2 linked regions of the Homo sapiens genome follow. The protein of the gene in region 1 purifies or fractionates together with the protein of each later gene. This does not show direct contact. Each region holds a gene or a part of one and is shown on either strand. Other genes may lie near its edges.

What was found.
Region 2: the proteins of SMU1 (region 1) and ARB2A fractionate together in Homo sapiens (co-fractionation; one large-scale study listed by BioGRID). This does not show direct contact.

What each region holds. Positions count from the first base shown.
Region 1 is NC_000009.12:33,070,175-33,073,674, forward strand, and holds part of SMU1 (WD40 repeat-containing protein SMU1), read right to left. Parts: coding exon 3,422-3,500; intron 1,719-3,421; coding exon 1,566-1,718; intron 1-1,565. UniProt on the Homo sapiens protein: Involved in pre-mRNA splicing as a component of the spliceosome. Regulates alternative splicing of the HSPG2 pre-mRNA. Required for normal accumulation of IK.
Region 2 is NC_000005.10:93,881,164-93,884,663, forward strand, and holds part of ARB2A (cotranscriptional regulator ARB2A isoform 1 precursor), read right to left. Parts: intron 526-3,500; coding exon 307-525; intron 1-306. UniProt on the Homo sapiens protein: Plays a role in the regulation of alternative splicing, by interacting with AGO2 and CHD7. Seems to be required for stabilizing protein-protein interactions at the chromatin-spliceosome interface. May have hydrolase activity.

The sequences.
Region 1 (3,500 bases):
CTCTACGGGAAAAAAATCTGATAATCCAATGTTAAAAATGGGTGAAAGATCTGAATAGACATTTCTCAAAAAAAGACACACACAAGGCAAACAGGTTTATTTAAAGGTGCTCAACACAACTGATCATTAGAGAAATGCAAATCAAACTACAATGAGATATCATCTCACTCCAGTTAAAATGGCTTTTATACAAAAAGACAGGAAATAACAAATGCTGGTGAGTAAGTGGAGAAAAAGGAACCCTCGTACACTATTAGTGGGAATGTAAATTAGTACAACCACTATGGAGAATAGTTTGGAGATTCCTCAAAAAATTAAACATGGAGGTACCATATGATCCAGCAATCCCACTGCTAGGTACACACCCAAAAGGAAATCAGTATATCAAAGAGATATCTGCACTCCCATGTTTATTACAGCAGTGTTCACAATAGGCAAGATTTGGAAGCAACGATAAGTGACCATTAACAGATAAATAAAGAAAATGAGGTACATGTACACAATGGTGTACTAGCTGGACATATAAAAGAATGAAATCCTGTCATTTGCAACAACATGCATGTAACTAGAGCTCATTATGGTAAGCGAAATAAGCCAGGCACAGAAAGACAGACTTTGCATGTTCTCATTTATTTGCAGGAACTAAAAATTAAAACATGGAGATAGAGAGTAGAAGGATGGTTGTCAGAGGCTGGGAAGGGTGGAGGTGGCGGGGGTAAGAAGGAAAGTGGGGATGGTTAATAGATACAAAAAATATAAAGAATAAATAAGAAATAGTATTTGATAGCACAACAGGGTGACTATAGCCAATAATAATTATACATTTTAAAATAACTGAAAGAATTGAATTGTTTGTAACACAAAGGATACATGCTTGAGGTGATGGATACTCCATTTACCCTCATTATGCACTGCATGCCTATATCAAAATATCTCATGTACCCCATAAATATATACACCTACTATGTACCCATAAAAAATTTTTTTTAATCCTTTTTCCTCCTATTTTGACAAACCTCTAGTAAAAGGCTGGGGGGGTGGGCAGGAAGAATGAAACCATACAGATAATAAGGTTTAGGAAGAATGAAACTATACAGATAATAACGTTTTGGAAGAATAAAAGACTATCATCATGCTCTACTGGTAAGCATAATCCGCGAAGAAACAAAAGCTTCTAGGGACTAAAAAGGCTAGAAGGAAACTACAATTGTTAGGGGCAAGACACACAAATGATCAGTGAACATACCAGCAGTCAGGCAGCACTTCGGGGAGGGCTAATGTGGAAATGACATCAGAATAAAATGTTCTGCTTTTTTTACTAACCAACACGCAATCCTCTAAACTGAGGTGTATAGAAGACTCAAATAATCAGAAAACTGAACAAAATTATTCTCTTTAACATACGCAAATTTCAGCCAACATATATAAACAGAGAAGCATCATTCTCAAAAATTAAATCAAAATCACAAAGAGTATACAATAAAATGGTAAAAAAAAAAAAAAAAGATCATGTTATTTCATTTCCAAAGTTAACAAAAAGTTCCTTTTCATTACCACAGTCATACCTCACGAGGATCAAAGTAAGACCTGGCCAAAAGGTTCTCCAGATGAATATATCGCTCTGGCTGTGTTTGTTTTAACATGATCATGGGATCAGTCTGTCTCAAAAGTGACCTGGCAGCACCCAATTCACGGAGCTCTATCAATTCCAGAACAACCTGGACAATTAAAAAAAAACAAAAAAAACCCCAGATGTTTCAACACACCGTCTTATTAATATTTTTCGGTAAAATATCTAACACAGATATGGCCTGTCAAAGGATTTCCAATACCAGGAAGTGCCCCTTTCCATTTTCACTAGCAATTTCAGGTGGACTTGGTGGGCTTGGTGGCTCATGCCTATAATCCTAACACTGTGGGAGGCCAAGATGGGCGGATCACTTGAGGTCAGCAGTTCGAAACCAGCCTGGCCAACGTGGTGAAACAGACTCTCTACTAAAAATACAAAAAAAATTAGCTGGGTGTGGTGGTATATGCCTGTAATTCCAGCTACTTGGGAGGCTGAGGCAGGAGAATTGCTTGAACCCGAGAGGCGGAGAGTGCAGTGAGCCAAGCTCATGCTACTGTACTCTGGCCTGGGCGACAGAGCGAGATCTGTCTCAATAAATAAATAAATAATAATTTCAATCCTTCAAACTCTATCCTTCATTTTTATCTACCAATCTCCCCTCCTCTCAGGCTTCTTGCTCAGAATGTAGATGCCAAAGAAAGCTAAAGATGGGAATATACCCATGGGCTCCAGAGAAACCTTTCTCCAGTTACCAAAATTTTCTTTGGGAATTATTGAACTCATACGGATTGTAAAGAAACAAACTGCCCAGACACGGCAGCTCACACCTGTAATCCCAGCATTTGGGAGGCTGAGGCAGGTGGATCACTTGAGGTCAGGAGTTGGAGACCAGCCTGGCCAATGTGGTGAAACCCCGTCTCTACTAAACACAAAACTTAGCTGGGCGTGGTGATGCACGCCTGTAATCCCAGCTACTCGGGAGGCTGAGGCAGGAGAATCGCTTGAACCCCGGAGATGGAGGTTGCAGTGAGCAGAGATCGCACCACTGCACTCCAGCCTGGGTAACACAGTGAGACTCTGTCTCAAAAAAAAAACAAAAAAAAAAACCCGTAAACAAAAACCAAAAACCAATTTCACTACTTTTACTTCAAATTACAATCTTATTTCCAGAAAGTCTACTCTGCTGTTTTATAATCACAAATTTGTCTGATCTTTGTCCTAGGTTCTTGGCTTGGAGCTTCTTGGAATTTGACCAGTGATAGGGGTATCTTTGTTACTCCTGGGCCCCTTGAATCACACCTGGGTTTGTGCAAAGGAAATGGCTCAGGATAGGTAGGAGCTAGTTATCAGAAAGACTAACTATGTGATTAGAAAGTTGAGGCTCTCTCGTGCCTGTAATCCCAGCCCTTTGGAAAGTCAAGGCTGGCGAACTGCTTGAGCCCAGGAGTTTGAGACCACCCTGGGTATTATGGTGAGATCCTGTCTCTACAGAAAAATGCAAAAATTAGGCAGGCGTGGTGGTGCGTGCCTGTGTTCCTAGCTACTCAGGAGGCTGAGGCAGGAGGAAGGATTGATCCTGGAAATGGAGGATGCAGCAAGCTGTGATCTTGCCACTGCACTCCAGAGTGGGTAACAGAACAAGATCCAGTCTCAAAAAAAGGAAAGAATTTTAATTTGGGAAATCCTGGATTTTCCAAGAAGGGAGAAAAAATACAATGTCAAGCCTTGCCATTGTTGTATGGGCTGATGCAGCCCTACCGTGCTTGAAGGAATGCTCACTGACGCTTTTTAGTTGGGGAGCTGGCCCACAACGAACCAACCCATGGGGATCAGCATCACCACCACTCTTACCTGTTCATAGAGGTCAATGAGGGTTTTGTCTGGCAATTTCAGAGACTGTATAGCCTGCAACACAGTATCCCAATGGCCA
Region 2 (3,500 bases), on another chromosome or scaffold:
AAGTTTTCTGCCTTCTGCATCCATCACAATAAAATTATTTTAGAAAATTTTTCTTGAGGTAGTATATGACACAAAAGGAAACAGAATTTGCATTTGTGACTTCTATAAAATGTCACACTGAAATAAGAATGATGCGTTTTGTAATTCTGAATTTAAAAACCCATTTAATCCAAGTAGACGACTATGGGAAATAAATGATGACAAATAAAAAAATTAATATTCTTGAAGAAAAACAAAACAATCTACATATAATAAAATATATACAAGGTAAAGAAAATAGTAAAGGAAAGTAGTGATCTCACTCACTCTGATATACAATTGCATCATTTCTTTTTCTCTTTGGGGGTTACGATACTTCTCATAGAAATCACGTCGCTTCTTTGTTTCTTTAGAAACTTTATCTTTTCTTTCCCGTTTTTCTGCTGGTTCATCTGAACTATCAGATGATGACTGTACGTGTATCTTCGGCTTTTCTACTTCAATATAGTTTTCATTGGGATTTAGTACTATTACTCCATATCCTTCCTGTTTTGAAATGAAAGAAGGTAGCATAATTTAAATCTTATAATCCATTTCAATTTTCAAAAAAGTTCTTAAAATTTCAGTCTAAGCAATTTTTATATAGTTGCATATTCATTAAAATACTCCTTTAGGCAAGATAATGATTTTATTTTTTTCAAAAGAAAGTCATTTAAAATTGTTTGCCTTTATTGTGTATATAAATAAGCTTTTATTATTTATAAGAACAAAAAATATAATTGCAACATAAAGATTATAAAGCTTAAATTAAAAAACTAATTCAGATATCTCAGAACCCAAAAATGACTGAAATAAATTAGCAAATAATTTATTTTCAAGTAAACTTTCAAATTATATTAATATTTATACTATCTGTTTTGAGAAAACAACCTCTGAAATCAAAGTTTACAATTCAAACTACATTTTTTTGTATATTTTTCTTTACAATGGCCCTTTCAAGAGCATTTTTTATTTGTCTGAACAATTAAAAAGAATAAGCAGTTAAAAAAGAATAAATCTGATTTAACATTACAAAACCATCCATACCTACATTATTATAAAGACATAACATCTACTTGTGTACCTTGAATTTTATTCACTTTGTTTCTCACAGGAGGCCAGAAAAATCATGTAGCAAAATAAGCCACTGTCTTACTATAATGTATGGAAGCAAGTCTTTAATCTTAAAATTTCTTTCATTTTTCAACCTACCATAAAAATTCTCTTTATTAAAAACTATAATCAGGAAATAAGCAAGGTTCCAAAGTTAAAAAATACAGCTTGTTGAGCTATTAAGGCTTTTTTTTTTTTAAATTTGTAAAACATGTTTTCCTGTCTCATTTCTTTCTAGCCTGGCAAACATTTCTGTGGTTATAATTAAGAAAACGTTTGATATTTATATTATGTCTAATGGAATAAGCTAACCATGAGAAAATATAGAGAGGGATAAACAATAACCATTGACAAGCATGGGTAACACAAATTTTTGAAGCTATTATATATCTTGTCTTTTCTATTCAGTTATGTGTTGTGAGGTTCCAATTATGTCCTTGTAAAATACTATAAGGTCATATTTAAAAGATGTATGATATTATAATAAAAACATAAGAGCTACAGAAAATAGCTCACAAAATCTATTTATTAGAAAATCTATTTAATAGAAAATAAAACTTATAAAATCTCATCCTTACTTAAAATAGGTAGTATATATAGTTTTTCAAGACAGTAACTGTAGAATCTTCTACTTGAAGTTTAAATTTTAAATTTTTTGCCAAACCAACCATAAGATGATTTTAAAAAATTGACAGCAGTAATAGTAAACCAGTAATAGCACAGACTCAATTATCTTATTTTAAAATATGCTGCATTACTGCACATGGTTGGTTTTTTTAAACAGTTGATTTCACAAACTACTTACAAACTTCTTTGGAATTGTTTTCTATTTTTTCCTCCATCAGATGATATTATTGTCTAAAACGATTATTTAGTTTGGAAATTTTCAAGATCACTGAAGTTCTGATTTTAATGATAGGACTATTAATTAAGATACAGTCATCTTACATATATGGAAACTATATAATAATATATAGCAAACTGATTTACAAACCACCACCCATTCTTCAACAGATGTTCAAATAAAGCTTTTAGAATAATGCTTCTTTCACAAAAAGCTTATAAAACACTTTACACATTCTGTAATTTAAACTTTCTACATCAAAGCAAAAGAGAATTTTTTTTAAAGTTTCTTAGCTCTAAGTCAAAAGTTTTACCAACAAAAGATATTTTATTTGGTCCTGCTTTATTCTAATCTGTATAGCTATTCAAAAGTCTTGTAATTCATTGTGATCACTGTCAGGTAGACAGATTGTCACTTGGTGATTTTCTACAGTTGGACACACTTGACTAGTTATTAAAATCACATTTGAAGGAAGTTCCTACCCCTCTTCCTTGTGCCTCTTACAACTTTTCACGCCCTTCTCAAATTTCAGCTATAACTTCTCCTCCCACCAAAAGTAAGTTAAAGAACACTGTTGCACTCTGCTAAACAGGGTGAAATAGAGGCATTCAGTACACTGTCTCTGGTGTAAGGAACATAGTCAAAAAAGGTCACCATAGGCCAAAAAGAAAATTGCCTCCCTACTAGATTCTGTACCGTGAGTAAGTGGTCTCCTGTCATGTTTCTTCCTTGCCTTCTCTGAGTGAATTGAACTTTAAACACACATACACACATACACATACACATACACACACACACACACACACACACACACACACACACACACACCACCCTCTCATACTCAGGAGTTAAAATTAGCAAGACCAAAATAGAATCTTAAAATTAGTAGAGATGAAAATAGTGATATACTACATTTTAATGATAATATGAAAAATTTCAAATTCAAAAACTTCACTCAAGGTAAAAGAGTGGGACTTTAATAAGCTGAAATAACATGGCATCATCTTTGTATAATGAATAAATCTCAAATAAAGGTAAACTCTTTGAACAAAATTTACAGTCACCAGAATTGTAAGACTATTATCTTATTACTTAATCAAAAAAATAATATTTTCATATCTGGCTTATTTGAGCAGAACTTTAAACTTCAATTTTTAGAAATCATAGATTGAAAAATTATCGTGCCTACTTAATTTGAAATAAGACTCTGAAATTTGATATGTTCCATGTAAATAAGTATTTTAAAAAAGGCATTTATATATCATCAAAGAAGCAGTATTTGTCTAAGTAACTGAAAATTACATGACTCATCTGTTCAATATCATAAAGGCACAATGTCAATGTTTCCCTTAGGCATCAACAGATGAGAAATGATTCTATTTTTAAATCACCACTATATAAATCAATTGAAGATTTGTTATCATTTAGATTTCAACAATGGATGCTTCTATTTAAACACCCAAACTATTTAGAAAATATTTTATCCTTTAGATATTTCAGATTGCCAATTTAATTAATGTGACAA